Homo sapiens: one gene and its partners. The protein of the gene in region 4 interacts with the protein of the main gene of each other region in a biochemical or structural test. Each region holds a gene or a part of one and is shown on either strand. Other genes may lie near its edges.

Region 1 (2,857 bases), on a different chromosome or scaffold from region 4:
ATGGTCTTGATATGTTTAGAGGGTATTTGCAATGGGATGTGGCTGGCCCAACTGTCAGCTAACCTTCATGTTTCTTTCATAGCCCCCAGGAAGAAAATTGAAGAGTTCAAAGAATTGAAAAGTTAAGCCAATTCATTTAAAATAATCTTTGACTTTCTCATTATCAATATATGTGTATTTTCTGCAAGGTTACAAAAACAACTGGAACATATGTTAAAATAATCTTCAGTGTCATCTGCAGCAACTAATTCTAGAGAACTATCTTATTCAATTTCATTTCTTACTTATATGGAACTAAACCTTAATCTGCTTTTCAGGTATGAAATATATTCATGATTCTGTCTCAAAATATGAAATCAAAAGTTAGCATTATAACTCCCAGCTAACTGTCATATTAATTCATCTGGATGAACCTTGTGGTACTGAACTTTGACAATGCTCAGGGTGTCAAAGCAAACACCTGCCCCACCCCACGCCTACCCCAAAAACAAACGAGAGGCTTTTATAGGTTGCAAGTCCTGGTCTGGTTTATTTATAAAGCAATAAATATTAGAAGCACAAACAAATTGCACGTGTGTAAACAAACTGTACAATGATTGATGAAAGATGAGGGAAGGTGGTTTGGAAGACTCCAAGAAGCATAATACCGTCATCCTGACTGGAAGGTAGATGGAGAGAGAAGGCATCTTAGAAGCATTTGCGGTGGACAATGGATGGGCCTGCCTCATCGTACTCTTGCTTGCTAATCCACATTTGCTGGAAGGTGGACAGAGAGGCCAGGATGGAGCCCCCAATCCAGACAGAGTATTTACGCTCAGGGGGAGCAATAATCTGCAGAAAGAAAACAAAAACTTCCAGTGAACTCTGAAGTTCCAAGCAAGGGAGCAAATAACACATTGGGAGGATTCACAGAAAAAAACCATTAGATATTAATTCGCTATAATGTGGGATATGTCATACCACGAAATAATGTGGCCAATCAAGTTATATGAACTCACCTCTATTTCATCATTTATATTATTAAAGATATATTCTATTATTAAAATGGAATTTCTCCACTTACCTAGAGTGTAATTTGGCAACAAGCTAAATGTGTAGTGGAGCCTAGCCCAAAAGTTGGGAGCTTTAAAAATGTATTCAAAGATTTTGTTGCGTGTGTGTGTGTCTTTTTTTTGTCAAAGATTTATTTTTATTCACTGCTTAAAAGCATTTTGGAAGTTACCTATCTTGGGAAAAGTGCTAAGAAAATCAGAAAAAGTGGTAGAAAAGCTAACAGGTAAAGTTTGTAGGAGACAAGAAACTGAGTATGAGGGAAAAGGAATTTGGAACGTAGTTCTGCTTAGAATACCAAGACTTGCCTCGGATCTCCCACTCACAAAAGTTCTTTACCTTAATCTTCATGGTGCTAGGAGCCAGAGCAGTGATTTCCTTCTGCATACGATCAGCAATACCAGGGTACATAGTGGTGCCTCCAGATAAGACATTGTTGGCATACAGGTCCTTGCGGATATCAATGTCACACTTCATGATGCTATTGTAAGTTGTTTCATGGATGCCAGCAGATTCCATACCTGGGAACGAGTCACACACACACACACACACACACACACACACACACACACACACACATCACAGTGCATTCAGGTCAAGGTAGAGGGAAGAGAACAGAACTTCTTTGTGTGGGGGAGCTGTCACCATTTGTCTCTGAAACATATGTTCCCCTATAAGACACACTGCAGGGTGGAATGGGTGCCTCACAGTTAATCCACAATACAATGCCAAGAAAGGAGCAACTGTGCTTAGCACCTGTTTCAAGTAAACACCTCCTGAAACTCTCAGATGTATGAAGATGTATTGGAAAAGGAAAAGATACACGTTTAAACTAAAATGAATGTAATTTTTGTTTATGGACTTAAATCAGATCCTGACAAAGTTCCTTATGGAAAGCATTGCTTAGGAAGGATATTTGTTGACATATAAGTGCCCAGTTATTAATATGAGTAGGAATGTTATTGCATTTAATGATGAGGAACTTGGAAAGTCCAGCTACTTGGTAGTGAAACTTACGGGAATAAGTCAGCTCTTGTGAACTAGCCCTTTTCCTGCAGATACGTGCTATTCAGTTACTACTCTGTGTCATCCTTTATTTTGAGATGAACTCAGTGTGTCATCCTTTATTATATCACTAGAGCAGAACATAGACTTCCCCTTTAATGAGCCATCAGGACTTGAGGTTGAGCTGTGTGGGAATCCAAACTATGACTTCTTTTAACTCAAGGGCTTCTTGAGCCTTCTAGATTTTACTCTGGGAGACCCTAAGATTTCCAGGGAAAATCGTGCCTCTGCACCAGACCCTACAACTCACCAATGAAGGAGGGCTGGAAGAGTGTCTCAGGACAGCGGAAGCGCTCATTGCCAATAGTGATGACTTGGCCATCAGGCAGTTCATAGCTCTTCTCCAGGGAGGAGGAAGAGGCAGCTGTGGCCATCTCATTCTCAAAATCCAGGGCGACATAGCACAGCTTCTCTTTAATGTCACGGACAATTTCACGTTCAGCTACAGAAATAAAGAGTATCACAGTCATGCTCTGAAGCAAGAAGTCAATTATAGGGAGGTAGGCGGATTCAGTGAGAGAGGAGGAAAGCAGACCCACACTGTGGCAGATGAGACACACACACTCACCAGTGGTGACAAAGGAGTAGCCACGCTCAGTGAGGATCTTCATGAGGTAGTCAGTGAGGTCCCGACCAGCCAGATCCAGACGCATGATGGCATGGGGCAAAGCGTAGCCCTCATAGATGGGGACATTGTGAGTTACACCATCCCCAGAGTCCAGAACAATGCCTGCCCGGGGAA
Region 2 (7,037 bases), on a different chromosome or scaffold from region 4:
TGAAATTAAAACTACTCATTAATTTTATAGTATTTTAGAATTGAAAAGGTGACAGATCTTTAAAAAAAAAAAACCTCGTCAAACGAAAACTGTTCATTTTGGTCAGTCATATTCAAAAAACTTAGTCTGGGCCAGGCACGGTGGCTCACGCCTGTAATCCCAGCACTTTGGGAGGCCAAGGCGGGTGGATCACGGGGTTAGGAGTTCGAGACCAGCCTGACCAACATGGGGAAACCCCGACTCTACTAAAAATACAAAAATTAGCCGGGTATGGTGGCGCGCGCCTGTAATTCCAACTACTCGGGAGGCTGAGGCAGGAGAATATCTTGAACCCAGCAGGTGGAGGTTGCAGTGAGCGGAGATCGCACCATCGCACTGCAGCGTGGTGACAGAGCGAGACTCCGTCTCAAAAACAAACAAAAACAACAACAACAAAAAAACTTATGTCCGATTCCTTTTGGTTTACAGGCAGAAATTTACAGGTAGACACATTTCTTTCTTGTACTATCGATGCTTATTGATACTGATGCTGGAATTTTATTCTTCCATTATAGTTTTATATTTGAATAGGTGCTTTTTAACAATTTTGTTTTCCTTAACCGGTTACCTTACTTTTTTAAGACTGGACCCAATTACTTGTTGAGCACTTTATGAATTAATTTTGTTAGTTTTAATTATTTCACTTCTGAGACTTCTTAGCATGTGATGTGTGTTTTCCTTTTATCACCTGGAATTTTCTGATACTTTATTATCTTGGAACTGATAATACAGTGAAAAAAACTTAATTTGTCTAATGTCACGATAAAAACTTTGTCCAAGCTTCTCAGGTTTTCTTAGAACTCGTAACTTTTTGGATTTTTAATTCTCTATCTAGGCATGGGCATTACCAAACTAAAGAAAATCTTACATCGCATATTATTTTTGAGTCATTTCAGGATTTGGCTGCAGAACTAGATGAATCCTAGCTTATTAAGTGGTACCTGGTTTAGAAACTTCCATGTTATTTGTCTGTGCTTCTGTAATTTTTTGTTTTGATTTTGAAAAGATTATCTTACCTGAAAAATCCTTTATAGCAGTAGTTAGGCAGTATTTTTGGTTTTTTGACCAGGACACTTGCACTACATGCCTAATAAAATATTCAGTGGGTCAGTGTTTGAACTTTTATCTTTGGAGCCAAATTAAAGGACAAGCCAAGGGATTACTAAAGCACTGGAAAGATAGAAACTTTTTCGCTAAATCTATCCTTTTAATATACATATATTTCTGAAGCAAGACAGGAGAATATTGAGTTAAGTTGTTGAGTTAAAAATCTTAGTGTATTGAAACTGGGAGAAATCTTAGGTTATTCTGCCCAGCTATTTATTTGACAAATAAGGAACCTGAAATCATAGAGCAGGTAAATAACTTGATTAGGTAGATGAAGAACAAAAGCTAGTTAGGATCTAATAATTTGGGAGATGACAAAGCATTTGTAGTCCAGTAGATGGCTAATAAGTCATTTCAAATGAAGCAATATTGTGTTGGTGTGGAAGTGGCTGTTGGATTTCTGGAGAAACCCGGTCCTTATACCCATGGCAAATTTCAGGCTTCTGTTTTGGGTGTTGATTTTTATCACTTCAAATTGAGATATAAATAGGCTTTTGTGGATGGGTCAATATGGTATACAAATCAAGCTATTTTCTGTCATGCTAATTTTTTTAGAGTCATGCTATGCATTGCTCTTTAGTAAAACAAGCATCAATTCTTTTTTTTTTTTTTTTTTTTTTTTAAAAAAAAAAAGAGACGGAGTCTTGCTCTATCTCCAGGCTAGAGTGCAGTGGCGCAATCTGAGCTCACTGCAACCTCCGCCTCCTGGGTTCAAGCGATTCTCCTGCCTCAGCCTCCCAAGTAGCTGGGAGTACAGGCGCACCCCACCACACCCAGCTAATTACAAGCATCAATTCTTAGTAAATAATGCCTAGGTAATATTTTGATACCACAGGACCTTCAGTAATTACCGAGATGTTTAAGATGCAGATTTCTTTAACTGGTTTTATTAGACAAGTAGTGCACCTTAATTTTAATATTTGGTTGTCTTGGTCAGAAAATATTACTGTTGGGCTCTATCTGCAGAGTTTACATTGCTTTTCTAGAAAGGGATCTGGTTTTTCAAAAAAGATAGCATAATTTCCTTTAAGAAAACATTGATGGAGCCGGGTGCGGTGGCTCACGCCTGTAATCCCAGCACTTTGGGAGGCCGAGGCGGGTGGATCACGCGGTCAGGAGTTCGAGAACAGCCTGGCCAACATGGCGAAACCCCATCTCTACTAAAAATACAAAAATTAGCTGGGCGTGGTCCGCACGCCTGTAATCCCAGCTACTCGAGAGGCTGAGGCAGGAGAATTGTTTGAACCCGGGAGGCAGAGGTTGCAGTGAGTCGAGATCGCACCACTGCACTCCAGCCTGGGTGACAGGGTGAGACTCTGTCTCTAAAAAAAAAAAAAAAAAAAGAAAGAAAGAAAAAGAAAACATTGATGCACAGATTTAAGAATGATTTATTTTAAGCACCTTCCCAAGTTGCCTCTGAAGAGTTCACATGATGCGTTATATGTTGATGAGATTGTTTCCACATCTACCTGAAAAGAGAGGTTAAATCATATTTTTGTTGAAGCTCCAATATACTTAACTGCTTATTTTTCTCTGTCTTTTATTAAGACTGTGTGTCATGAGTACATGACATTAATATTTTGTGAATAGTATAGCAGTGTTACAGAAATGGGATGTGGTTCTGTGATTAAGAAACCATCATTTATTTCTTTGCTATAGTTCTTTTTTTTTTTTTTTTTTTTTTTTTGAGACGGAGTCTCGCTCTGTCGCCCAGGCCGGACTGCGGACTGCAGTGGCGCAATCTCGGCTCACTGCAAGCTCCACTTCCTGGGTTCACGCCATTCTCCTGCCTCAGCCTCCCGAGTAGCTGGGACTACAGGCGCCCGCCACCGTGCCCGGCTAATTTTTTGTATTTTTAGTAGAGACGGGGTTTCACCTTGTTAGCCAGGATGGTCTGCTATAGTTCTTAAAATATCTAATTGAACTGAATCTCTCTATTTGAATGTTGGTGATTTTTTCCCTCTTATCTTTTAAATTTGTGCCACATTCCTTATTTTTTAGGATGAGAATCAGCGTAACTTTCCGTCTCAGGGAATAGTTTTTGGAGTTTGTTCTTAAATCCTCAAAGTCACCGATTAGGAGTATTGGCAAATTTTTTTCTCTTACCTTTTTTCTGACCCGTAGTAACACAGTCTGAGAAGTAATCTAAAAACCTGGAAAGAGGTTGTTTTTGTGTAAAACAAACCAGGAATCTATTGTTGCTTTGTGACAATTCATTTCTTGACATTCAAATTCTGATGCAAGAGCCTAGTCATTTAAAATTTATCTTATTCCACCAGCAGCTTATCAAAGAATTTCAAAAAATAAAAAATATATGTATATAAATATAAATAAAATTCATCTTAGTTCATCCCTATGGAAACATTCAACTAAAACTGGGCTCTCATTTTCAGAAATCATCCTAAACCTGTTATTTGGGTTTTCTGGTAGTTTTTACATTTTTTTAGATAAAGCTGTAAAAGCAGCAAGAGTAGCTGTACTCAATTATCATTTCTGAAAATATTTAGCATACTATGAAATAATTCATAATTACCGTTAGTACACCTTTGCTATACCAGTTCTTTAAATTATATTGATAATTTAAATTATATATTTAGTAACTTGCATTTTGTTTGAGTTTTTTGTTTTTTTGTTTTTGAGACAGAGTCTCACTCTGTCGCCCAGGCTGGAGTACAGTGGCGCGATCTCGGCTCACTGCAACCTCCACCTCCCGGGTTCCAGCAATGCTCCTGCCTCAGCCCCCTGAGTAGCTGGGATTACAGGCGAGCGCCACCACGCCCGGCTAATTTTTGTATTTTTAGTAGAGATGGGGTTTCACCATGTTGGCCAGGCTGGTCTTGAACACCTGACCTCGTGATCTGCCCGCCTTGGCCTCCCAAAGTCCTGGGATTACAGGCTTGAGCCACCATGCTCAGCCGTTTTGTTTTGTTTTAAAACCTGGTCTGCAGGAATAGGTGAGACTTAGCATGACCTCAGTTTATGTTTGAAGAGGCCATTTTTCTGCCTTGTAACATAGTAGTTAAGAACTAGATTGCCTGGGCTCAAATCAAGGCTCAGCTACATAATTGTGTCACCTTGAGCAAGTTTTGTGCTACAGTTTCCTGTCTGTAAAATGGGTGTAAAAAAGAGTACCCATTTTATAGAGTTGTGCTGATTAAATGAATGAACATATATAAAACATGTAGGATAGGGCCTGCCACATAAATATTAACTGTGATGATGCAGCATCTTTTTTAGGTTGTCCTTTTGAGGGAATCTGTGAAGATTTTGTTTGTTTATATTTATGCTTGAAAAATCATATAGCAAAACTTAACTACTGTTCTTGGAGGAGGAGGAAAGCAGGTATTGATCTTTATGTTACTGGTGCTTTTAAATTCCTTAGCTCTACCTGGCCTTTGCCTAACATTTTAATTTTGTGACCCATCACCCAAATGCCAATCTTTCTGAACTGCTTATTTTCAGAATCTGCTAAGATCCTTGTCTCATCTTTGCATGTATCTAGAAAGCATATTTTCTTTTGGTGGATCTCATATATAATTCTTATAGTATTTATTTATCATATTGAAATTGTTTATATATTTTGTCTAATCCATTAGTCTTTGGAAAGTTCACTATGGTGTAATAGAATACTATACAATGAAAAGGAGCACCAAGGCAGAACCCTTGAGTTCTAGATTACCCAATTTTCTGAGCTTTGAGTAAGGAACTTAATCTATAATGCTCATTTATTAGCAATATGTCTTACTGATTTAGGATTGTTGAAGATCCACTGAAATACTATGTGAATGTACTTTGAAAAATGTTAAGTGTTATATAAAATATAACAGAATACTTAAATATTCATTTAGAAGGCTATAAATTGTCACCTATTACAAATGGAATATATTAAACTTAGTTGGATTTTAGGAGCTTTTTGCTTTGTCAACTTAATTTCTCAAATCTTAACAGGGGAGCTTTTCAGTTTGAAGAAACATTGTCAGAAGCTCTTAATATTTTATTTGGAAGATGATTATGCCTTTGACAGGTAGCAGGCTTAATTTTATATGTAGTTTTTTTTTTATTGTTGTTGTTTTTGATGGGGTCTTGCTCTGTCGCCCAGGCTGGAGTGCAGTGGCGTGATCTTGGGATCTTGGCTCACTGAAACCTCCACCTCCTGTGTTCAAGCGATTCTCCTGCCTCAGCCTCCAGAGTAGCTGGGATTACAGGCACCCACAACCACACCCGGCTAATTTTTTTTTTTTTTTTGTATTTTTAATAGAGACAGAGTTTCACCGTGTTGGACAGGCTGGTCTCAAACTCCTGACCTCAGGTGATCCACCTGCCTTGGCCTCTTAAAGTGCTGGGATTACAGGCATGAGCCGCCGTTCCTGGTCTATATGTAGTTTTTAAAAGATTGGTTATTTGTGATTTTTACATAAGAGGAAAAGCATCAGTAAGCTGTGGTTTTGTGGCCAACTTAATTGATCATATAATATCTCCACCTTCACTTACATTAATTTAGATTTTTCAGGTGGGGTTTCATAAATAATTTACTTTTTAGTGTTGTGACTTGAATCTTGGCTTTGCCAAATTACCATATTAAATACATTATGCTAAATGAATATGTTGGAATGATTTTTTAGAAGAGTCCTCAGATAAGCTGTTAGTCATAACAAGCAAATAATTTTCTCAGGAATGTAAGAATTCTTAAGAATTTTAACAGTTTGAATTTAAGAGTGTTTGGAAATTTGCTTGTTGTAATCATCATACTCAGGTTAGTTAAGAAAAACCACAGTCATTCCTGCAGATACCTTTTGTGCAGCTGAGGTTCAGCTTCTCAGAGACAATATTATTTTTGTCAGTAGATACGTGGTAGATGGTCTAGTTAACCAAACACACACTAATGTATAAACCAAACAGTGAGAGATGAAATTAATTAGTGAATCAAATGATTAATGTGCACATTCTCTGTTACTAGATAGAGATTAACAGATTTCTTGGGATAAGATCATTTTCATGGCTAAGAGTTTTGAGCTACATAACCTGATATATCTATCTTTATGTGGATCATCTCCTTCCATGGACTGGTAGATTATTGTGGATTAAGGTAAATCGGGAAATGCAACAGATTTATCTCTTTAACATGCTAAAGAGTTACTAGATATCATTGTCATATTAAAATGTTCTTTGAACTCTCCATATTGCCCCTCTCACACACAGTCATCCGTCAGTATACACAGGAGATTGGTTCCAGACAGCCCCCACCCCAGGGTACCAAAATTCACAAATGCACAAGTCTCTTAAATAAAATGGTGTATTTTCATATAACCTACAGTAGTACATCCTCCTGTATAGTTTATTTTTTAATTTAATTTTTTTTTTTTTTTGAGGCTGAGTCTTGCTCTGTTGCCCAGGCTGGAGTACAGTGGCACAATCTCAGCTCACTGCTACCTCTGCCTCCTGGGTTCAAGCGATTGTCATGCCTCAGCCTCCCGAGTAGCTGGGATTACAGGCACATGCTACCATGCCCAACTAATTTTTGTATTTTTAGTAGAGATGGGGTTTCATCACGTTGGCCAGGCTGGTCTCGAACTCCTGACCTCAAGTGATCCATCTGCCTCTGCCTCCCAAAACGCTGGGATTACAGGTGTGGCTCCTCACGTATAGTTTAAGTCATCACTAAATTACTTATAATACCTAATACAATGTAAGTGCTATGTAAATAGTTTTTATACTGTAGTGTTTTAAAATTCATGTTGTTTTTTATTATTGTGTTTTGTTATTGTTTTTTCCCCCAATATTTTCATCTGCAGTTAGTTGAATCCATGGATGCAGAACATGTGGATATGGAACCTGAGGATGTGGAGGGCGGACTGTTCTTATGTGTAGAAAGTAGAGAGTAACTGAAGAGT
Region 3 (7,674 bases), on a different chromosome or scaffold from region 4:
TGCTGCACTGGTTTCTCTAGTTTCACAAAAGGGCAACTCATCTTGGGCTCCAGCTGTCTGCAGAGGGCCAGTTCCAGAACCTCCTGCTGTGTGTGAAGCTGCGGCTTTGACTCCCACCCCTAAGACATACCTGGTCCTGGACCCTTTATAGGCAACTCAGCTTCAAACCACTGGCTATGGGACCTTCTTCATTCCAAGAGCCTGGCTGTCATGTTTCCCCGTCTTGTCTTTGAGCAGGGAGATGGTGCAGTTCTGTGTGTGTGTCGAGTGTGTATATGTGAATATGTGCGTTGGCTTCCTACACCTGCTGTCTCAGCCAACTTGACGGAGGTCTCTTGCAGCTGCAAGCCTTGGGCAAGCCACATAATCACTCTGTTTCTCAATTTACCCATCAGGAAAATGGTATCACAATGGTACCCATATCGCAGGGTGGCTGTGAGGCTTTAATGCTATTTAAGATATGCAACTGGCCGGGCACGGTGGCTCAGGCCTGTAATCCTAGCACTCTGGGAAGCCGAGGCAGGAGGATCACCTGAGGGTCAGGAGTTTGAGACCAGCCTGGCCAACATGGTGAAACCCCATCTCTACTAAAAATACAATATTAGCCGGGCGTGGTGGCAGGCGCCTGTAATCCCAGCTATTCAGGAGGCTGAGGCAGGCGAATCACTTGAACCTGGGAGGTGGAGGTTGCAGTGAGCCAATATCGCGCCACTGCACTTCAGCCTGGGAGACAAAGTGAGATTCCGTCTCGAAAAACAAACAAACAAAAAAAAAACCCACACCACCAAACCTTGTTTAGCCTCTCGTTCCGTTATCTAGAACAGCCATGTCAGACCAGAAGGGCACACCCCAGAACTCAAAACCATGCTTTTCCCTGGGTGAGGAGTAAGGGGTGGTTCTAGTTTTGGTTGTGTGTTTGTGTGTATACATTTTCTGCAATCAGCAGGAGTCACTTTTATGATTACAGGGAAAAGGGCAATCAATACTTAAAACAGCAGGCACCTGCTTATCTCTTTAAGCGCTGAGAGCCAGCTAGTGTTCAATAAAAGCTTCAGGACATGCTTGGCATGAGCTGACATTTTTGTAGTGGTTAGGGTGGCTTGAAGGAGGAGGGAGGAGGGCAGCCATGGAGAGCGGTGTTTCCTGTACTGCATGTGTTTGAGGGGGCAGGGGGAGCAGTTTTAGATTCACAGAAAAATTGAGCAGAAGGTGCAGAGATTTCCTATATACTCCCCACTCCCCCACATGCACAGCCTCCCCGATTTTCAACATCCCGCACCAGAGAGCAGGTAAGAGAATGAATCCAGAGTAGACAGTGGTCACTCTTAGGAGTACTGCCTTGCCTGGCTCTGGGAAACCCAAACTCCGAGGGCTCCAAGCCTCCACCCAACTCTCCACCTACCCCCACCCCCCAATTCAGCAACAACGTTTTTTTGTTTTTTTTTTTTTTTTTGGAGACAGGGTCTCGCTCTGTTACCCAGGCTGTAGCGCAGCGGCGCGATTTCTCTTCAATGCAACCTCTGCCTCCCAAGCTCAAGCAATCCTCCCATCTCAGCCTCCCCAGTAGCTGGGACCACAGGCCTATGCCACCACACTCAGCTAGTTTTTATTTTTTTCTTTTTTTGCAGACAGAAAAAAAAGTGCAGTGGCACGATCTCAGCTCATTGCAACCTCTGCCTCCTGGGTTCAAGTTCTCCTGCCTCAGCCTCCTGAGTAGCTGTGATTACAGGCGCATGCCAACATGCTCGGCTTATTTATTTACTTATTTATTTATTTATTTTTGCCCAGGCTGCAGTGCAGTGGCGTGATCTCGGCTCACTGCAATCTCCGCCTCCCAGGTTCAAGCGATTCTCCTGCCTCAGCCTCCCGAGTAGCTGGGATTACAGGCGCCCGCCACTGTGCTCAGCTAATTTTTTGTATTTTTAGTAGAGACGGGGTTTCACTATGTTGGCCAGGCTAGTCTTGAACTCCTGACCTCGTGAGTCGCCTGCCTCAGCCTCCCAGAGTGCCGGGATTACAGGCGTGAGCCACCGTGCCCGGCCAATTTTTGTATTTTTAGTAGAGATGGAGTTTCACCATGTTGGCCAGGCTGGTCTCGAACTCCTGACCTCAAGTGATCCGCCTGCCTCGGCCTCCCAGAGTGCTGGGATTACAGGCGTGAACCACTGCACCCGGCTGACTCATGCTTCTTTAAGGACACTCTTCGGCTGGGCACAGAGGCTCACACCTGTAATCCCAGCACTTTGGGAGGCTGAGGCAGGTGAATAGGAGTTCGAGACCAGCCTGGGCAACATGGCAAAACCCTGTCTCTATACTAAAAATACAAAAATTAGTCGGGCCTGGTGGCAGGTGCCTGTAGTCCCAGCTACTCGGGGAGGCTGAGGCAGGATAATTGCTTGAACTCGGGAGGCGGAGGTTGCGGTAAGCCAAGATTATGCCACTGCACTCCAGCCTGGGCAACAGAGCAAGATTCCGTCTCAAAACGAACAAAAAAAACCCATAAAAGTCACTCTTCTTCACAATATGGGGAGTTGGGGACCAGCTAGAGGTTTGGGGCTGGCCCTCTGCTTGGTGGTGGTTGGGATGGTCCCATAGGGGAGCCACTGTGGCCCAGAGGCCTGAGCCGTGTGGGCCCGGGCCTTGTTTACTGGACTGTGGGCTTCCTGGGTGCTGGGCCTGCTCCCAGGGAGTGGCTCCTTCCCAAAGCGTCCCTTTGCCTTGGGAGCGGAACCACGCAATAGCCTGACTGGCCCTGGCAGCCCATGCCTTGTGGCCAGTCACCAGAGAGGGCACACGAGACCCAGGCCAGGGGTATCAGGGACAGCCCCTGGTCAGACTCTGCTAGTTTCCCTGCCTTTCGCTACGTGGCTGGACCACAGGGGAAGAAATGGCAAGAAACCGTGTCTAACTCTCCCTTGATACAAATTCAAAGTTGGCTTGGGGGATGGCCACCTTTGGGACACACACCTGGACAGATCTAAGCCAGCAGCGTGGCTGTTTGCTAGGCACTGTTCTGTGCCTGGGGCTTAATTTACAGAGGTACGGCTGAATGACCATGAGGAGAGGCCAAAGCCATCGCAAGATTGATCGCATTTCCTGAGAGAAGGGGCACCCATGCCATGCACGGTTCTCAGTAGAGAACCCCAGGTTTGGTCAGGAGGCAGAAGCAGGGGCGAGGGGAGAGCCCAGGCCTGAGGCTTTCTTGGGGTTTCCATGGAAAAGGCCTGGCAGGGCAGGGAAAGAGTTTAAAATTGGCTAGTTTGAGTAATTCTAGCAGGCTCTGGGCTGCAGAGTGGTCTCTAGTCACCTGATACCTGGCCCTGGGTGACTTAGGGCAGGGAGAATCTTGCCTCCAAAGGCGAGAATTAGATAAGGAGGTAGCTGGGGCTGTAGACTTGGGGTCTTTTTTTTTTTTTTTTTTTTTTTTGAGACAGAGTCTCACTCTTTCCCCCAGGCCGGAGTGCAGTAGCGTGATCTTGGCTCACTGCAAGCTCCACCTCCCGGGTTCACACCATTCTCCTGCCTCAGCCTCCCGAGTAGCTGGGACCACAGGCGCCCGCCACCATGCCCGGCTAATTTTTTGTATTTTTAGTAGAGACGGGGTTTCACCATGTTAGCCAGGATGGTCTCGATCTCCTGACCTCGTGATCCACCCGCCTCGGCCTCCCAAAGTGCTGGGATTACAGGTGTGAGCCACCGCGTCCGCCCGGGGTTGTCTGTTTTGTATATGAAAAGCATGCTCTGCCCCGAGCCTTAGCTATCTCTCTCTCTTTTTTATTTTTGAGACGGAGTCTTGCTCTGTGGCCCAGGCTGGAGTGCAGTGGCACCATCTCGGCTCACTGCAACCTCCACCTCCCGGGTTCAAGCGATTCTCCTGCCTCAGCCTCCCAAGTAGCTGGGATTACAGGCGCCCGCCACCACGCCCAGCTGATTTGTTGCATTTTTAGTAGAGGCGGGGTTTCACCGTGTTCGCCAGGATGGTCTCGATCTCCTGACCTCGTGATCTACCCGCCTCAGCCTCCAAAAGTGTTGGGATTACAGGCGTGAGCCACCGCGCCCGGCTGGAAATCCATAATTTCAATGGATCAGAATTTGCCTGTCACGTTCTCTGTGCCAGGCACGGAGCGGGGGGGCGGCAGGGATGGAACCCGGCACATGGGCCTCTGCCTCCTTGGCGCGCTGTAGGCGCGAGCCTAAAGTCATCAGGCGACAGCCCCCGCCACGTTCCGGGGCGCCCCGACGGCTCCAGCAGCGGGTGGGGTGGGAGGCGTCCGGACAGTCCGGAGGCCTCGATGGCCAAGAGGAGCCTGGGCTGGAGGGGGCCAGGCCCGGGGGCGGCCGGGGGAGGGCCCGGGACTGGCGCAGAGGCAGCGCGAGGCAGAGGCAAGCACTCGGACGAAGGCGCAGCCCCAGCCTCGGGGTGCGGAACGGGCACCTTCCGGGCCACTTGAGTCTGAGACCTTGTAGCCGGCTCGAGGCCCGGGCGCAGCAGTCCCTGCCAGCCAGCTTTCGGCGCAATGGGACGCGGGCGCTCCTGGTGTGCCGGCCTCGGGCCCTGCACCCTCACGCATGCGCGGCCCCCCCCCCCCCGGTGGACTACAACTCCCGGCGTGCCCCGCGCGCCTCCCGGAAGTGATCGCTCCGGTTGCCTCCGACCTCGGCGCTGGGCGGGCGCGCCGGGCCTGGGGAAGGGGCGGGCGCGGGGACCCGATGCGCGGGAGCGGAGGCCGAGATGGCTTCGGCGGGAGGCGAAGACTGCGAGAGCCCCGCGCCGGAGGCCGACCGTCCGCACCAGCGGCCCTTCCTGATAGGGGTGAGCGGCGGCACTGCCAGCGGGAAGGTAAGGGGCCGAGCGGGCCGGGGTCTCGCCTCTCGCCGGTGCCTACGGGCGGCCCGGTCCAGAGAGGAGACCCCAGCCCCGGCCGAGGGGCCCCCTGCCAGGCAGGGGCAGGGCGCGGGAGCGAAGGGGCTGCAGGCCGCGATGGGCCGGGGCGGGCTGGGGCGGGCGAGGGGTTGGGGCGCTGGGCCTCGGGGCTCCCCCACAGCCTCTCCGCCGGCCGGGCTCCTCGGAGCCCCAAGTCCGTGCTAACCCCGTTGGGCCCCCGCGGCCCTTCCGCTGAGACCATCCACACCTGTTGGTGTCCTCCCGCCTTCCGAGCATACCCCCCAGGGGGCGGGTGGGTCAGTGTCTCCAGAAGCCGGCCCCGTGCCTGTCACAGGACGAGCGGTTCCAGGCGGGAATCCCGCTTCTGTGTCTCCAGTCGACCGTGTGTGAGAAGATCATGGAGTTGCTGGGACAGAACGAGGTGGAACAGCGGCAGCGGAAGGTGGTCATCCTGAGCCAGGACAGGTTCTACAAGGTCCTGACGGCAGAGCAGAAGGCCAAGGCCTTGAAAGGACAGTACAATTTTGACCATCCAGGTAAATCGCGAGCCCAACGATGTGGGGAGGGCAGACCCCATTCTGGGCGGCCGCTAACCAGCTGCGCTTGGGCCCAAGGTTGGATGGATGCAGACCCGCTTGGGCTGTTCCCCCAACTCGCCACGCAGCCTGCAGTGGAGTTGGCTGCACAGTGAAGTCAGGGGAACTTTGCTGAGTTCTCTGGGCCCTGAGTGTCCCCCCAGGAGCGTGGTTGGAGCCAGTCAGGAAGCCTGTTGCACTGTGGGGAGCCCTGCCCTGCCCTGCCACAACTGTGATCCTGGAGAAATCCTCCCATCTTCCCTTCCCACGTTGGGGCCTTTAGGGCCCTCCACACACACCTCTGCCCACTGTGCCCTCCCGTGCTTTGGGGCAAAGTCCTCAGAGAGGCCAGTGTGGGAGGCGGTAGGTAAACTAGTGCTGGTGGCTTGAAGCTCCGGGCCAGGTAAACGGGCAGATGCGGCAGGGAGACACCTGCCACTGCTAGAAGATTCCACCCTGGCTGGCTGGCATGGTCAGCCTTTTCCCAAGGACTTGTGGGAAGAAGGCCTGCAAAGCCGCAGTCTAACCAGTTAGTCCCAGAAAGAGAGAGAAGCAGAGGCCCAGCCTACCCACCTCCCAGGAAGAGCTGATCAGAAAACCCCTGTGTTCCGGCATCTCAGGGGCACAGAGCTTGGGCAGTGGCACAGCCCGAGAACAGCAAGGACAGGGTCATCCTGTGGTCTGCAGGGCTGCAGAGGGCACTGTTGCTACCAAACATACACTGCCGTAGTCCTAGTCTACCTGTGCTAGGGTTCTCGGTGTCCCCAGCACCCAGCTGTGCTGACCCCAGAGCAGAGAGGGTTCCCTGCTGTCCGCTGCACGAGGGCATCTGCCTGTCTTGCCTTTGTCTCCAACCCTGCAGATGCCTTTGATAATGATTTGATGCACAGGACTCTGAAGAACATCGTGGAGGGCAAAACGGTGGAGGTGCCGACCTATGATTTTGTGACACACTCAAGGTAAGCAGGTGGTTCTAGGGAGGGCCGAGGAGAGGGGCCAGCTAGGACGTCCCCTCGGGCTCACACAGACCTGCCTGGCGGCAGGCCTCCCCCGGTTGGTTTCTGTGGGTCCCCCACCCCTTCCCACAGTCAGTGTCCCTGCAATGGAAGCTGACTGTGTGTGTGGCCTGGAGACCCTGTGTCTGCAGCAGAGCCCCTTTCCCCGTGCGCCCCTCAGGTTACCAGAGACCACGGTGGTCTACCCTGCGGACGTGGTTCTGTTTGAGGGCATCTTGGTGTTCTACAGCCAGGAGATCCGGGACATGTTCCACCTGCGCCTCTTCGTGGACACCGACTCCGACGTCAGGCTGTCTCGAAGAGGTAAGGCGGCCGCGGGCCTCCGTGCCTGCCTGGCCGAGGCTGGCGGCAGGTCCTGAGGTCTGAAGCACGCCTGCCCCTTGCCGCTGCAGTTCTCCGGGACGTGCGCCGAGGGAGGGACCTGGAGCAGATTCTGACGCAGTACACCACCTTCGTGAAGCCGGCCTTCGAGGAGTTCTGCCTGCCGGTACCTGTGCTCGCTGCTTCAGAGCCCATTTTCCCCTTTCACAAGGACACATGGGACCCAGTACTGTGAGAGGGCTTAGTGCTGGGTGACAGTGATCTGATTGAAAAAAAGGAGAAGAATTTGGCTCATTATGGCCACATACCCTGGGAGTAGTTCTCAGCTGTAAAAACATTCTCTGTGCCTGCTCCTCCCTCTGCCTAAAAAAGCCCCATATCTCCCCCACATTCACACTGGCCGCTTCCTCCCTGCCTCAGGCCCTTGCCCAGCGTCCCCATTCAACACTGAAAACCCTCTGCACCCAGCGCCAGCCTCTCTGCCTGCTTCCTTTTTCCGGGGCACTTACCATCATCTGACACGTCCTGGGTGCTTATTCCCCGCAGAGTGGGGAAGCCCAGGAGCACTTTAGTCTGTTCACTGCCAAGGCCGGGATCTGGCCCTCAGAAGGTGCTTCAGAGCTGCTCCTCCAGGGTCTGTGACCCCAGGCTGCTCTGGGCCAGTGCTCTGAAATCTTGGAGTGAGCGCTGTGCCCAGATCCCAGCTGGCTCGCAGAGAGCAGGAACTCCCCGCTGCACACCCACCTGTCTTTTCTCCATTTCTCCATCTTGTGTTTCTGGCTTGGTGGGACTCGTGGCTCTACTCAAATGGGAGTGTTTTGCACGGGAACATTTTGCCTGTTAAGGTAAAAATACAGCACAAAGGAACTGAAACCAA
Region 4 (7,037 bases):
ATGAAGACTTAAAAGATGGGTACTTATAAAAGCAGGTGTAAGGGTATTTGAAAAATGTAAACACATATAAAATCAGCAGACCTGGCATGAATACTGAGGTATTAAGGGAACTAGCTAATGTACTTACTGAGCCACTTACAATTATTTCTGAAAAATCTCAGAGAACTGAGGATAGATCAGAAAATTTAAAGAAAGCAAATACCAAATTTTCAAACCAGGATAGGAAGTGAATACCTTGTAAATACACTTTGTTAAGTGATGATAATTCTGAGTAAAAATTTAGAAGATTTTGAGAAAAGCATTTGAACTTCTAGGGGCCAATAAAATACCATGCAGAAGAATGTTTAAAAAGTCATGCCAAATTTGAATCCATTTGATCCTCAACCTCATCAGATGTTATATGCCAAACTACTTATTTTGGCTTAGATAATAATCATATAGAATGAAACTTTCCACAAATAGACTGTGTCAGTGGCTGGCTACTTCTAACAAGGTGCCACCAAGAGAGTTTTGAGATCAATTCTAAATTAAAATATTTGCTAACGATCTAGAAAAATAAGTCAACAGCATCCTGGCAAATCTGCAGTTAGTTATAAATTGAGAACTGTTGTTAGTAATAGGCAAAACAGAAAAACAATACCAATATAGATTTGCAGCAATTAAAAATGTAGACTCCAAAGTAAAACTTAGAAAAATATTAAAGTATTAAAGTGAAAGAATTTAAAAAACAATTCAATGGAAAGGACAGAGTAATAACTGAAGATGATATAAGAAAACGAGAGAACAGATTCTTATTTCTTAATCCAGCATTGCCCGAAACATATACAAGAGTTAAAAATAAATACATAAATAAAGTCTTTATATTATGAGTCATTCTGATTAGACCACGCACAAAATGGTGCTTAAAGTATTGGTCGTACTATAAAGATGTAAACAGAGCAGAAGGAATTGCCAACAGAGACAGAAATGAGGGGTTATTTCATAAGAAAAATTGAATTGGTAAAATATGAATGGCCACAGCTAAAAAGACCAAGGTAGAATATAAACATTCACATAGGAAAATATGAACACGAGACACACGGGAAGACATGGGAATGTATGCTGAAATGGCTACATATGATGTGCAGGGAACCATCAAATGGTATACAGCAGGGAACAGCAATGAGATGAACTGAACAAGCTATTTTTATCATCTGTAGTTCTAATGTGTAATTCTGTGAAACTACTGGGTTTTCAGTTATTAAACAAACACCTAGCTTACAAAATAATTCTTTTTTTTTTTTTTTCTTTTTTTGAGACAGAGCCTGTCACATTGTTGCCCAGACTGGAGTGCAGTGGGCACTCCACTCAGCTCACTGCAACCTCCGCCTCCTGGGTTCAGGTGATTCTCTGCCTCAGCCTCCTGAGTAGCAGAGATTACAGGCACCTGCCACCACACGTGGCTAATTTTTGTATTTTTAGTAGAGACACGGTTTCACGTAGATGGCCAGGCTGGTCTCAAACTCCTGACCTCAGGTGATCCACTGGCCTCAGTCTCACAAAGTGCTGGGATTACAGGCATGAATCACAGCACCCCAGGCCTACAGAGAAATCCTTCTACCTGGTCTGATTTTTTTGGACTATAATTAGAGCTTTCTACTATAATTAGAGCTAATAAAACTCAGAGGGGACAAAAACCAGTTGTCTTCTGTTCCAGAAGAGTGACATCATGCAGTTTATAAAAATTAAACGGACCAAAGAATCCCCACCCTTAACATATAAAATCAATAGAGGTTGAATTACATACACTACAATGCATTCTTAGGCACATTTTCTCTTGAAGGAAAACTAAAACAATAAATCACGGAAATTCAAATGAGCAAAATACTAACAGCTTCACTTATAAGCCTTTTGCATGAGGTAATAACAAGCATGAGAAACAGATCCTACTTTGGGAAGGTTCATGGGTGTCCTCAGCCGGGTCCGGACACTCTTCATTAATATACGCTGCTCTGTTGGCAGCAAATGGTACTTCATTGCTTCAATGAGGTAATCTTTGCAAGCACTGCTATTCTTGACCAATGCTTCCTCTTCAACCCTCTGTAACAAGAAATCAGACACACCCACTGAGGGTAGGGCTATTTCATAATTAAATTGCCAAAGAAAAAGAAGTAAAGGAGAGGAAAAAAGCAGTAACTATATCCTTTAGTTTAGTCTAAAAATAAACGAGGAAAGTTTATAAATACATCTAAGAGAAAAATAAATATAACCAAAAAATGCTCAAGTATCTGGCCTGCAGAGAAAAACATATATAGGTAATAAAAAGAAGAACCACAGTGAAAAATGATAAACTTCAATGTTAGCTATGGAATATGATGAACTCTTCGGATATTATATCCACCTGTGTATCTTTAACCTTTAAGACAAAAAGTAAGCAAAACAAGAAACAAAGTTTAGATAATACATCCTTCAGGTGAAGACAATACTAATAAGTTAATGATACCTTTTTCAAACACAAGTGGGCAAGTAAAATATCCCAAAAAGAGATTAGAAATACCTTAAAGCAACGTACCCATAACACAAATAAATCTTGTACTGCCTAGCCTGACCTCAAACGCAGGACAGGCTTCTGGGTTCGTTTTCTTTTTTCTGGGGGGGGAGGGGGGGCGGGGGGAAGGGAACAGAGTCTCACTCTGTTGCCCGGGCTGGAGTTCAGTGGTACAATCCTGGCAAACTCCACCTGCCGGGTTCCAGCAATTCTCCTCCCTCACCTTCTTGAGTAGCTGGGACTACAGGCACCTGCCACCATGTCTGGCTAATTTTTTGTATTTTTAGTAGAGACGGGGATTCACCACGTTAGCCAGGCTGGTCTCGAACTCCTGGCCTCATGCCTGCCTCCGCCTCCCTAAGTGCTGGGATTATAGACGTGAGCCACTGACCGCACCCACCCTTTTGGATCATCTTCTTAATACCAGAAGACCCATGATTACACAGATCACAAAAAGTAATGAGATTTCAAGAAATCCTAAAATGTTCAAATCTAATTTCTTAATAAATGATTCTTTCAATGGTTTCAATTATTAAAATAATGCTGAAATGTTCCTAGCGGGATTCTAATAAAAAAAACAGTAAATTTAAAATTATTTGGAGACCACTAAAGAATCATTTTTCACATTTATTTCAAATAATGTTTTCCCTCAGCTTAGAAATAAAGACAGAAATCAAATGCATGCCACTATTAAATTACGAAGTAAAATTAAACGGTATTTGGGTCAGACCTCAAAATTCCAGGTCTGCAGGGGAATCAGAAGAGACTATGGAAAGAAAAAAACAGTAAAGAAGATGCAAAGCAGTGACTGCCACAGGGACATTTATTTACATGTATTTAAGTGACCACAAATACTACCTTGATAAGCTCTAGTACTTGCTTACCCAAATCAAAAATAGGGGCAAAAGCAAATTTCTAAGAACGGGGAATGGTGGCTGGGTGTGGTGCCTCACAAGGCCTGTAATCCCAGTAGTTTGGGAGGCCGAGGCGGGTAGATCACTTGAGGTCAGGAGTTCGAGACCAGCCTGGCCAACAGGGCAAAACCCCAACTCTACTGAAAATACAAAAATTAGCTGGGGTTGTAGCATGCACCTGTAGTCCCAGCTACTCAGTAGGCAGAGGTACAAGAATCACTTGAGCCCGGGAGGTGGAGGTTGCGGAGAGCCGAGATGACGCCACTGCACTCCAGCCTGCGGGGTCCTTTACTGTCTTCTGTCCTGTACTCCACAGATCTGCATTCTACAGCTCTTATCACTGCTTGATAGGGATCTACATGCTGTCAGGCCAGTGACACAGTGCTGTGTGGATTCATATGTTTTGCATATGCATTTACCTGAACTAAATATTCCCGAGGAAGCAAAGGTAACCGTACATGTTCCATCAGTCGGGCCATAAACTCTTGCCTCACATCCTTGTCATGGTTCACCCATGCTATTACTGCTTCAAATACCTTGCAGAAAATATAGGAGAAGAAAAAATAAGAAATGAGTTGTGTATCAAGGCATCTGGATAAAATATGAGACTACATTTTATATATAACTCTTGCTAAGACATCCAAGTTTAATTCACAGCTCAAGTGTTTTCAAAATCCTGACTTGCAATGTACTTACAAAGCCATTCACCCCATTTCTTTTCTGTTCTTTTTTTTTTTATTTACCCAAAATAATAAAGCAAAGTGATATTCTGGAATGAAAATCATGTATCCTTATAAACAATTCATGTTTGGCTTTTTCTTCAGGTTTACAAACAAATGTTAGACCATACACATAAATCGAAGGTTTGTACAATAGATCGACTCAGCTCTGTAATAGCAGAATATATTAAAATGTAGTATTTTGAAATTTTTTTTTACAAATTAAAAAATAAGGGCATTATTTTTTACAATACATAATTGTGAGAAAGCTAATAAGCTAATATGAAGACACTGTTTGTCTACATAATTTTCTTCTCAACTGATGAATATATCACTTAATAATCTTTAAAGGTTTGCAGGAAATGTTTGACAATATGCAATTGGATAACTGAGACCAAAAATAGGTTATTTTGATCCAGGAATAAAGCAAGAAACTAATTCTCTCATACTTTGTGGATCAGCTTACATTTTGGCAACCTTTTATTGATTTCTGCAAATAAATAACAAGAATGAACAGAATGGAGGTAGTAAAACATTTTGCAAAGTTTGAAAAAAAAAAGCAAGAAACTAAAAATAATGCACATTAAAATTAACACCCCTCTTTAATTCATTCTGTCAACAAGTATTTATCAAGTGTCTCTACGTGCCAGGTGCCAGAGATTAGGTGAACAAGATAGTCGGCCTTCTGGCAATTCTATCTAATATTTCTCAGTTCTGTCTTCTCTCCCCCCTGCTTCTATCATCCCATATCGGAACCTGCTGCTCACTGGTATGACTTCAACATCCTCTCATCTGGCCCTCACCTCATTTTTGGTCCATACTGCCCACCACCACCAGATAGCTAGTCTCCAAAGATAGCCTCCTAATAAACCACATCTCCCAGATCCATACCCTTATATAGTAACCCTCCACACTGAATCTAAGCTGGCCCTGTTAACCAGTAGAGTGCGGAGGAAGGGACACTGTGCAATTTCTGAAGGTAGGTCTTAAGCAGCCTCACTACTTCTACTCTGCTCTCTTGAAATGCTCATTTGAAGGAAGCCAAATGTCATGTAAGAAGTCTGGCTACTTGAAACCACCACACCATGAGAAACCCATGCAAGTTACAGAGAAGAAAGGAGGGGAGAGGAGGGAGACCTAGAGAGAGACCAATCAACCGGGAGCCCCGGAGCCAGACAAAAGTAGGTGGAGGAGCCACCTTGGACATTACAGACCCATAAGATGCCATGTGCAGAAGAACTGAAGCTCCAGATCTATGGCTCCAGTAGAACCATGCCAGGTATCTCCAGGCATCTGGGTCACCTTAGCCGAGGTCTCAGACACTGTGGAGCAGAGACAAGCTGTCCCTATTGTTCTGCATGAATTCTGACCATAGAATTGTTAGCATAAAATGGTTATTGTTTATGCTTTTACATTTGGCAATGACTTGAGTAGCAGCAGAAAACCAGAACAGCCCTCATGATATTTCTATAATGCAGGTTTTGGCATGGTTTTCTCCTCTGGCTTAAAACCCTTTTAAGGCTCATCACTACAATACAGTTAATTTTCTTTAACATAGCTGAGAAGATATTTTATTATATCATCTTCTAATTTTATCTTCCACCAATGTCTCATATTCTAAACTCCCATCATACTGAACACATTGAATACAATTACTCTTTCATATCTCTTTACATTTGTATATTCTGCTTCTTCTACCTGGAATGCCCTCTGCATTCCCACCCATCCCTATTTCTCTGGCAAACTCAGACTCATTTTTAAAAGACTTGAAATATACATCTGAACCAAGTTGAACTACCATCCCCATACCTATCCCATTCCTGGAAAAGTTAAATGCTCCTAAGGCACCCTTTACAGCATTCTGTAATCAATTATTTACTCTACTGGCTGTCCCACTAGTCTATGAGTAACAAATTCTATTCTGCTAATCTTCTCTTCTCTAGGAGCCCATGGCAGTGTCTGGTACATGGAAGGCACTCAATACATGTCTATTAAGTGTGAAAGTAATGTCATCTTCCTCTGTATTTCTAGGATGCTAAGATTATATATGTCACAAATGCTTTCACATTTTTTAATACTGTAAATATTAGAGTAAATGTGTCTTTAACCCCAGGTGAAATGAATAGCCTTGAGAAAGAGAATCAGAATTTACACAACTTGAAATGCTAAGCACACAAAGGAGAAACTCAAGTTTCATTTCCTCTAAGCACAGCTTTTGTGCTCTGATTCCCGTGTGCTACAAAACCCACCCAAGGAAAAACAGCCCACTAAAAGGAGCTTCTCTCTCCAACTATACGAAAAGTGCAGGTGGCTGACAAAGGTAATTCAAAACGTGGAGAGACAAAAGACTACAACCAGAAGCAGTAGCTGCACAGAGAGGGAGGGAGGCAGGGAGGGAGAGAGTCAGGGAGGCAGGCAGGCTGAACGGACTGGCAGGGGTGAGGTATTATGTCACAGGAAATCAATCTAAAGGAAGGTGACAATCAAGAATGTTCAGTCTAGAACTACCAAAACTTCGCCATCCTAGGTAACCTCTTTCAACTCAGAAGACAAGGAAACTAATTTAGTGACAAATATTATGTTCACATCATAATTCCTACAGGCATTGAGTTGTAGGAAGAAACTAGTTTCCAAAAAAGCATTTGTTTCAGATAGTCTAATGTGTGCAAGCTCTTGCTGTGGAGGTCAAGTACAAAACTGTAGTGGCTAAAAATTTAGGGAACCTCCCACAAAGTGAAGACCGGGAGTAATTTACATAGACAATCAACAAGTCCTGAGTTTCTTTTTTTTCTCCTGGAATCCTTTCCTGAAGTAACTAGCTGAGTTTCTTAACTTCCAGTTGAAACATCACTGGCTGTCACTACACATACAGGATCA

Evidence for each region.
Region 1: the proteins of KLHL2 (region 4) and ACTC1 interact in far-western blotting, tested with the Homo sapiens proteins (one study listed by BioGRID).
Region 2: the proteins of KLHL2 (region 4) and WNK1 interact in a test that uses a peptide from one of them, tested with the Homo sapiens proteins (one study listed by BioGRID).
Region 3: the proteins of KLHL2 (region 4) and UCK1 form a complex in vitro, tested with the Homo sapiens proteins (one study listed by BioGRID).

Annotation. Positions count from the first base shown.
Region 1 is NC_000015.10:34,789,725-34,792,581, forward strand, and holds the end of ACTC1 (actin, alpha cardiac muscle 1), read right to left. Parts: intron 2,846-2,857; coding exon 2,684-2,845; intron 2,558-2,683; coding exon 2,366-2,557; intron 1,572-2,365; coding exon 1,390-1,571; intron 832-1,389; coding exon 688-831; 3' UTR 506-687; downstream 1-505. UniProt on the Homo sapiens protein: Actins are highly conserved proteins that are involved in various types of cell motility and are ubiquitously expressed in all eukaryotic cells.
Region 2 is NC_000012.12:755,566-762,602, forward strand, and holds part of WNK1 (serine/threonine-protein kinase WNK1), read left to right. Parts: intron 1-7,037. UniProt on the Homo sapiens protein: Serine/threonine-protein kinase component of the WNK1-SPAK/OSR1 kinase cascade, which acts as a key regulator of blood pressure and regulatory volume increase by promoting ion influx.
Region 3 is NC_000009.12:131,528,233-131,535,906, reverse strand, and holds the start of UCK1 (uridine-cytidine kinase 1), read left to right. Parts: upstream 1-4,643; 5' UTR 4,644-4,732; coding exon 4,733-4,840; intron 4,841-5,219; coding exon of another isoform or gene 5,220-5,261; coding exon 5,262-5,421; intron 5,422-6,322; coding exon 6,323-6,419; intron 6,420-6,636; coding exon 6,637-6,779; intron 6,780-6,868; coding exon 6,869-6,963; intron 6,964-7,674. UniProt on the Homo sapiens protein: Phosphorylates uridine and cytidine to uridine monophosphate and cytidine monophosphate. Does not phosphorylate deoxyribonucleosides or purine ribonucleosides. Can use ATP or GTP as a phosphate donor.
Region 4 is NC_000004.12:165,294,549-165,301,585, reverse strand, and holds part of KLHL2 (kelch-like protein 2), read right to left. Parts: intron 3,978-7,037; coding exon 3,861-3,977; intron 2,080-3,860; coding exon 1,930-2,079; intron 1-1,929. UniProt on the Homo sapiens protein: Substrate-specific adapter of a BCR (BTB-CUL3-RBX1) E3 ubiquitin ligase complex that mediates the ubiquitination of target proteins, such as NPTXR, WNK1, WNK3 and WNK4, leading most often to their proteasomal degradation.